Regions from separate parts of the Homo sapiens genome. Here region 1 is linked to region 2. The links come from fine-mapping of genetic effects on gene expression. A gene starts in region 2. The other region holds a variant in brackets. All regions are shown on one strand. Distances are between the middles of the regions. Region 1 overlaps UBE2R2-AS1 (UBE2R2 antisense RNA 1). Region 2 holds the start of PRSS3 (serine protease 3).

The links. PIP is the estimated chance that this variant, and not a neighbour inherited with it, causes the effect. A credible set is the group of variants that fine-mapping cannot tell apart.
Region 1: its variant is the best candidate, but not a certain one, in a credible set for the expression of PRSS3 in whole blood (TOPMed, PIP 0.86).

The regions. Positions count from the first base shown.
Region 1 is chr9:33,746,712-33,751,097 of GRCh38, reverse strand. The region is part of intron 3 of UBE2R2-AS1 (UBE2R2 antisense RNA 1); the gene reads left to right. It also overlaps a transcript of PRSS3 not described here. Among named protein-coding and RNA genes, the nearest start is that of PRSS3, 47 kb to the left of the region's middle. The variant C/G (reference allele first, on the strand shown) is at 1,930.
Region 2 is chr9:33,792,915-33,797,300 of GRCh38, reverse strand. PRSS3 (serine protease 3) reads right to left here and starts at 1,740. Exons shown (of 5, transcript NM_002771.4): 1 at 1,688-1,740; 2 at 499-658. The coding sequence starts at 1,727. All of the region lies in intron 3 of UBE2R2-AS1 (UBE2R2 antisense RNA 1), which reads left to right. RefSeq lists an enhancer at 691-1,191.

The DNA.
Region 1 (4,386 bases), 46 kb after region 2:
CCTGCAACGCGGCAGACCTGACTCGCGGGGGACTGAGCAATATTCATTCCAGGGCCGCGGCCAGCCGGACATAGGCACTCGGGGGCGGTGGGAGTAGTGTGCGCATCGGTGCCGCAGCCCGGAGGGGGCCCCAGGTGGGCTTCTGCGACACCAGGGCCCTCCATCCCCTCCCGTCCTCCCCTAGAGGAGCCTCCATCCCTGTCCCTGAGCCCCTCCCAGTCGGTATCCCCTCCCTGTCCGCGTACCCTCCCCCGCAGGTCCCATGCGAGTCGGAACCCCCTCTCCATCACAGCCCCGCTCCTTGGCGGGGCTCCCTCTCCCTTCGAGCCCTCCTCCAGTTTCAAGCCCCCTGCGGGTACTGACGTCTGACCTGTGCCCAGCGCCTCGCAGCCGTCTGCATCCCGCGCCGCTCGCCAAGTGCGTCCACCCAGAAGCGGGTGCAGCTCCAGGCCCGCCCCGCCCCGCTGCGCCCCGCCCCGCTCCACTCTGCCAGGCCTGGCAGCCGCCAGACCCTTTCCACACTTGACCGCCCTTCCCGGTCCCGGCCAGCGTGCGGGGCATCTGTCGTCAGGTCCGCACATCCTCCAGGCCCTTGACCTTCCCTTGGAGATGTCTCTGGCCCCAGGAACTCCCTAGGCTGTGTGCTTCAGGAGAGGCTGGTTCCTGAGTCACCCAGGAGGACTGCAACCAACCGGGACCTCCTGGGATGCAAAGAGATCGCAGGGCCTGGGAGGCGGCGAGGAGCCCGAGCACAGGCTGTGGCTCTGAAGAGTGTTTGTTACCAAGCCAGGCAACCACTGCGAACACACCGGAGAAACAGCCACAGATCACCGTCCAGCAAAGGAAGAAGGCACCAACGGTCCATCAGGGACCACAACCCAGTTTTTCTAGTTTAAGTTTGGTGGCTAAGTTTGAGTGTCACATAGTTCATTCATTCCTTCATTCATTCAACAAATCTGCCACGTTCCCATCTGATAACAGATCTGACAGGTGGGCACAGTTCTAGGTGCTGGCAATAGAGCTGAGAAGGAAACAAAGTCCCTGTCCCGGAGAAGGGGGCTTCCTGCTGAGGAGCGCATGACTTTCTTTGTGGTATTGTGCTGTGGCAGCGGGGTCCTCTTCTGTAAGCTACTGAGAGGTGAAGCTGGCTGGGCTTCTGGGTCTGATGGGGACTTGGAGAACTTTTCTGTCTAGCTAAAGGATTGTAAAAGCATCAATCAGCGCTCTGTGTCTACGCTCTGTGTCTAGCTAAAGGTTTGTAAACACACCAATCAGCACTCTGTGAAAATACACCAATCAGTGCTCTGTGTCCAGCTAATTGGTGGGGACTTGGAGAACTTTTCTGTCTAGCTAAAGGATTGTAAAAGCATCAATCAGCGCTCTGTGTCTAGCTAAAGGTTTGTAAACACACCAATCAGCACTCTGTAAAAATGCACCAATCAGTGCTCTGTGTCCAGCTAATTGGTGGGGACTTGGAGAACTTTTCTGTCTAGCTAAAGGACTGTAAATGCACCAATCAGCACTCTGTGTCTAGCTAAAGGTTTGTAAACACACCAATCAGCACTCTGTAAAAACGGACCAATCAGCACTCTGTAAAATGGACCAATCAGCACTCTGTAAAATGGACCAATCAGCAGGATGCAGGCGGGGCCAATAAGGGAATAAAGGCTGGCCATCGCGGCCAGCTTCCCCGTTCGGGTCCCCTCCCACATTGTGGGAGATTTGTTCTTTCCCCTTTTGCAATAAATCTTGCTGCTGCTCACTTTTTAGGTCCACACTACCTTTATGAGCTGTAACACTCATGGTGAAGGTTTGCAGCTTCACTCCTGAAGCCAGCCAGACCAGGAACCCACCATGAGAAACAAACAACTCTGGAGCCGCCATAAGACTCACTGTGGCTTTAAGAGCTATAAGACTCACTGTGAAGGT[C/G]TGCGGCTTCACCCCTGAAGTCAGCCAGACCACGAACCCACCGGGAGGAACAAACAACTCCGGACGCACCACCTTTAAGAGCTGTAACGCTCACTGCAAAGGTCTGCGGCTTCACTCATGAAGTCGTGCATAGACCACGAACCCAGTAGAAGGAAGAAACTCCTGACACATCTGAACATCTGAAGGAACAAACTCTGGACACACCGTCTTTAAGAAGTGTAACACTGCGAGGGTCCGCGGCTTCATTCTTGAAGTCAGCGGCACCAGGAACCCATTGGAGGGAACCAATTCCGGACACACAGCCTCGTGGAATGGTTCTGCACAGTGTGTGTGTGTTTCCCGTCAACCCTGTGCACACTATTAAAAGAACACAAGCGCTAAGCCTCCCTCTCAGACCTACTGGTAAGAATCCAGGGCTGATGCACCTATTAAAAGCTTCTCAGGAGGCCGGGGGAAGTCGGGATTGAGAACCACGGGTCTAGATCTCCAAGATGCCTGGCAGTTTATCCCACTGTTGAGGGCACTGGCAATCAGGAAGGGCTTCATGGAAGAGATGTTCGTATTTGGGTTTTAAAGCAGGGCCACAGATAGATATTAGCAGTGCAGAAGGACACAGGATCTGATGGGCAGCCTCTTGACCAAATGGCTCTCCCTTTCTATAAAGTCAAAGAAAATCACTGTGAAGGATAAAGCATTAGCTGGAGCAGATCTTTCCCTGGTAAAACAAAGTGAATGGGATCTGGTGGGAGGTGGTAATGGCCAAGAGGTAGTGTCATCAGTTAAAAGCATAATGGAGTTGTGCACCTTAGAGGGAGGATGGGCCGCAGCCAGGAGCTGGGAGGGCATCTTTTAAATTTGCTGTCAGCTCAGAAACTTAATCACACGTCTCATCCTAGCACTTGCTCACAACCTTTGTTTTAGAAATCGTTGATGGAGTGGAGTCCTGGATGCCTGTTACCCTGGGAGAGGCTATCCTCTGTCACCAGATCCCTTTTATGGACAGCCATTTTCTTTTTTAATATTTACCTTGCCTACCATGGTGAAACAAAGGTGTGACCTTTTAATTGTATAGTTCAATCGTGAGTAGAGATGCTTTTATTTATTTATTTTTTTTGAGACGGGAGTTTTGCTCTTGTTGCCCAGGCTGGAGTGCAATGGCTCGATCTCGGCTCACCACAGCCTTGACCTCCTGGGTTCAAGTGACTCTCCTGTCTCAGCCTCCTGAGTAGCTGGGATTACAGGCATGTGCCGCCAGGCCCGGCTAACTTTGTATTTTTAGTAGAGTTGGGGTTTCTCCATGTTTGTCAGACTGGTCTTGAACTCCCGACCTCGGGTGATCTGCCCACCTGGGCCTCCTAAAGTGCTGGGATTACAGGTGTGAGCCACCTCGCCTGGCCGAGATGCTTCTTAATATTAAAAAATCTAAACAAAATAATTTCTGCTTCAAATTATAATAATCAGGTACCAGGACAAAACCAGTTTGTGTGTGTGTGTGTGTGTGTGTGTGTGTGTGTTTGAGACAGGGTCTCACTTTGTTGCCCAGGGTGAAGTTCAGTGGTGCAATCATAGCTCACTGTAGCCTTGACCTCCAACGCTCAAGAGATACTCCTGCCACAGCTTCCTAAGTAGTTGGGACTACAGGTGTACATCAACACGCATGGCTAACGTTTACATTTTTAAAAATTTCAATAGTTTTTGGGGAACAGGTCATTTTTTGTTACACGGATAAGTTCTTTAGTGGTGATTTTTGAGATTTTTGTGTACTCATCACCTGAGCAGTGTACACTGTACCCAGTGTATAGTCTTTTATCCCTCACCCTCCTCTCACTTACCCCTGAGTCCCCATAGTCCATTATATATATTTTTTTTTTTATTTTTTTTTTTTTTGAGACAGAGTCTTGCCCTGTCACCCTGGCTGGAGTGCAGTGGTGCAATCTCAGCTCACTGCAACCTCTGCCTCCCAGGTTCAAGTGATTCTCCTGCCTCAGCCTCCCGAGTAGCTGGGACTACAGGCACGTGCCACAACGACTACTTTTTGTATTTTTAGTAGAGACAGGGTTTCACCATGTTAGCCAGGATGGTTTCAATCTTCTGGCTTCATGATCCACCTGCCTTGGCCTCCCAAAGTGCTGGGATTACAGGTGTGAGCCACTGCGCCTGGCACATTATATCATTCTTATGCCTTTGCGTCCTCATAGCTTAGCAAACCCTTATAAGTGAGAACATATGATATTTGGTTTCCCATTCCTGAGTTACTTCACTTGGAATAATGTTCTCCAACTCCCGTACAAATTGCTGCAAATGCCATTACTTCATTCCTTTTTATGGCTGAGTAGTAGTCCATGGTGTAAATATATCACATTTTCTTTATCCACTTGTCAGTCGAGGGGCATTTAGGCTGGTTCCATATTTTTGCAATTGTGAATTCTGCTCCTATAAACAAGCAGATGCAAGTGG
Region 2 (4,386 bases):
CCAGTGATTTGTGCTTTAATAAGCCTGCAGGTGGTTTTGACGCATACTCAGGTTTGAGAGTTCTTCGTGTAGGCAGCGGTTCTCAGCTCTGTCTATACACTCTACAGTTACCAGAGGTAGAGTGTTAAATACTCACTGGTATTCACACTGTCTTCCTGAGAAGTTTGAGTTAATTGCCCTGGGGTAGGACACAGGCATCAGTATTTTCAAAAACTCTGTCTTAGGTCGCTTTAATGTGTAGCTAACCAGCAAAAGGTACTTGCCTGCTTTTGTCACTAGCTCTGACAACTCCAAGATTATCCCTGCCTGCTTTTATGACCACAACCCTTGCTGTTTCATGGATTGGCCTTGCTCTGGAGAGTCAGCTGCTGTCAACAAGTTTTCTTTTCCACCACCTCTCCCATCCGTCTTACCCAACCTCAGTACTTCCCTGGGCTGAAGCCAAGCTCTCCCAGGCAGCCTGGCTGGGAGCTTTGCAGTCAGGGGCCCCACACTTACGTCTTGTAGCAGTGAGCTGCTGATACCACCCACTGTTCGCTGATGAGGGAGCCACCGCAGAAGTGGGAGCCAGAATTCAGGGACACCTGGTAGGGGAGAGAATTCTCCTCACAGGTGTAGCCCCCAACAATCTTGTCATCATCGTCAAAGGGGACAGCAACTGGAGTGGAAATAGGAAGGGAGAAGGCAAGTCAGTAGCATGTTAGGGGTGGTGCTCCCAGCCTGCGGTTGCTTCCTGCCAATTAGAAATCCTTAACAAGCCCAGTGAGGCCAGGCAAGGGAGGGAGCGCTGCCACCCCTGGTGAGCATCACTGGATGTGGCTCCCAAGTCTCTGTGTCTGCAGGGCACGTAGCTAGGTACCCTGCAGGGGCTCAGATCTCTCCTGGGGACACCAGGCTGAGGATGCAAGGAATGTCCTCAAAATGCTTCCAGTGGGGTAGCAGTTGGTATGTTGTTGTCTCACCCACTGAGTGCTTCTCTCTTTTATTCATCACCTGTGTACTTGCCCTGGCTATTTGAGCCCTGGATTGTCAGGATACTTTGGCTAAGCTAGGAAAACCCCCTGTCTGGGTAGACCTGGCCATGACTAGCTTCCCCCATAGCTCAGATCTGTGCAGTGAGGGCAGAGTTGAGGGCAGCCCCAGGCTCACTTTGGCATAACAAAGGTAGACTTTGTTATTGGCCAATAGAAGAGCAATTCTTAACTTTGGCGGCATGCCTGGAAACGTTAAAAATCACCTGGGAAGCTTAAAAGCCCAGTACACAGGCTGCACCCCAGACAAATGAAGTTAGAACTTCTAGAGTTGAATCTCTGGCATGAGTAATTTTTGAACCTCCCCAGGTGCATTCGAGGTTAAGAGCAGCTATAGTGGTGCTATACTGGTGCTCTTGGAGCCAAGCCTGAAGCCTGCCACTTCATTTCATGGGCCAGCCCCACCTGGTCTCCCTTCCCAGCTTCTCCAACCACAGCTCGGATATGGATGAATGACAGTGGTGGGAGTGAAATGAGGGAAAAGGTGAAACAGGTGAGGCTTAAAGAGAGCCCAAGGAGGATGGGAAGGAGATATGTCAGATGGAGGAAATAGAATATCAGAGCGCAGTCAAAAGAGGAGAGGTGGCAAGAATGGCAGGGCATGTGTCTGCCAGGAAAGGGGGTGGGTGGGGCCTGAGGCAGGTCATGAAACTCGCCAGCAGCTCCCACAAAGGCAAGGATCAGGAATGGATTCATGGTGGTAGAGTGTGCCTGACTGGTGGTGGAAGGCCTGTCCTTATACCCTTCCAAGAATCAGGAGAGGAGGTGTCTGTGAGGTGAGGGTCACAGTTCTTCCCAGCACAAACACACCTGCAGCTTTCCCCTTGCCAGGGTCTTGCATCAGCTCGGCTACGTTTGGCCACTCTGTGGGTTTGTGATTCACAGGTGATAAGGAAACTTGCCTTCTGAGAGCAGAGAGGGAGACTGGCTATTTCCTGGAAGGATGCTGGGATGGGGAAGACAGGGGAAACCAATCCCCGGATCACACAGCTGGGCTTTCGTAGGCCGAGGAGATGAGGGTTAGAAGGAGGGAGAATGGCCTGGGTGTCTAGGAGTCCTTTTAACTATTGGGGATGTATTTAATAATGTACTTAAGGAAGGGCAAGCATTGGTAACAAGCTTGGCTTTTCAGTTTCCTGGAGCCCCCACGAGAGGAGGAAAGTCTTATCTAAGGCTCATTTTTGTGAATATGAATATGCTTCTTTGCAGTCACTGTGCACAAAGGTCAAATCCAAGACTTTGGGTATCCAGAATTCCAACACTAAGGGGTAAGGAGAAGGGAGACTTAGCATTCCATAGGATTCTGGGCTTCCAGATGGCTCTCCTTCCTACCAAGGCTTAAAAGGATGGGAAGTGTTTCAAAGAAGGAGGGGACACAGGTTAGGTAGGAGCTTACTCAGTGCATCTGGAGGATGGAAAACCAATGGCGCACTCCTCCCCTTCTTCAATGTGAAGCCACTTGTCTCTCTCATGTGCATCCTGTCATAGGTTCTTTTTATGCAGCCTCACGGTTGTCCTGGCAACCTGCACTTAGGGTGATGCAAACTGACTCACCTGCTCAGGGCTGACAGCCTGAACCAGAATGACATGCCCCTGATCAGATGTCAGAGTTTGGACCATGGTAAATCTGGGTTACCATCTGATCTGAGAATCAGCAGTAGGTAGAGATTTTAGCACATGGTAAATGGGTCACATATTGGGATCAATAAGAAGATGTGGAGGGGTGGGTCTAGAATTTTCTATTTTAGATGCAGTGAGATTATGCTGGGCTTAGTATCAAGTGAATCTTCCCAGAGAATATCCTGATTTGGGCCCTACCAAGGCTACTAAGACACAGTTGTGTAATTGACTGAGGCACAACCTGGCCAGAGTAGTGTGGAGATGGAGATGCTGTCTGTGATCAAGTCTAATGATGTAAGGAAAGGAGGAGCTTCCTTATGAGGGTGCTTTCCCTTCTCAGCAACTCTGAGCTCAGGTTGGTGATGGGCAGGAGTGAGCAGAGTTCAAGTTTAAATTCTTTGAAAAGTAAAAGAAGCAGAGATGTTCTGGAGATGGTGAACAAAATGAGAAAAGCTCAGAAACTTCGTGTTGAGATCGGACATGGCCAGGGGGCTAGAGGGAGGAAGCAAATGGAAACCAGAGGGAATTGGAAAAAATGCGAATGTGGGGCCCGTGGAGTTGAGAGGACACACAGAGTACCTTCAGGTTCAGCTCCTGGCATGGCCAACGAGCCAGCTTCCCCAAAGCCAGGAGATCCACTGCTCAGAGACCCGCTCTCCACCCCACATCCCCTCTAATCACTGATGGGCTCATACCTAACACTGCTGTACTTAGATGGTGCATGGTGCCTGACAGCTTTACAAGAGTTTTCACATAAGCAACAGTGGTACATTGCTTTTCAGTTATGCTGAGTTTCACAGTTTGACTTCCCACAAACATGCTAATTGTGATTTGTGCAGAGCAAAATTATTTCCATTTATAGAGGAAGAGACTGAGATTCAGAAGGATTCTGTCTTGCCCAAGAATACAGATCTTGGCAGAGCTCACCATAAGGCCAACGGAAGCCATGGAGATCATTGTGAACTGTGGGAATTGCTGCAGGTGACATCTAAAAGGAGATTTATTGAGGATCAAGGCAGAGGTCCCCAGAGGACAAACTGTGCATCTGATTCCTTCCTCCTGCTTTTCTTCCTGGCAGAAATAGATGATTGAATTCATCTTTCTCCTGGCACCTTGTCTCAGAGACTTCCCTTGCCACAGTTCCAGACCCATCCAGGCCATGACTGCCATGTAGATGACACACCTCTCTGCTCACAAATGACTGGCCAAGCCTGAGGTATCCAGGTTTTGGAGCATTGATAATATGGGTTTTTCCTGTGTTGCCCCTAAACATGTTGTTTCATTTTGTCCCCTTGTCATGGGGTCTTCACACAACTCCTGCCTTAGAGGATAAGGAAAGGCTCTTGCTGTAGCAACTGTAGACACCAGTGTGCACTAAATAGGGAGGTGAACCTTGGCAGAAGATGGAAACTTTTTTTGGAGAACGGGATTTTTGGATCAGTGCTTGTGGCTCTGACTCTGTCTGAAAGGAACACCCAAGAATATGAGGATTTTCTGTATCTAGAGCTTGAAGATTAGCCTTCTCCAGTATTTTGCGCTCTTCCTTAAATGATCACAGTATAGTCTGAGGTCAGCTTTCTTCAAAAAGGAATGACCTTACAGGCAGAGAAGATAGCTATAGGTGGAGACTGTTACCTCATACTGTAGACTCAGATGTGTAGGATAGGTTCAGATCCAGCTGCCCAAGCTCAATTTGGAGGACATGCCATTCTTGGTACTCTTCATCCTGAACTAG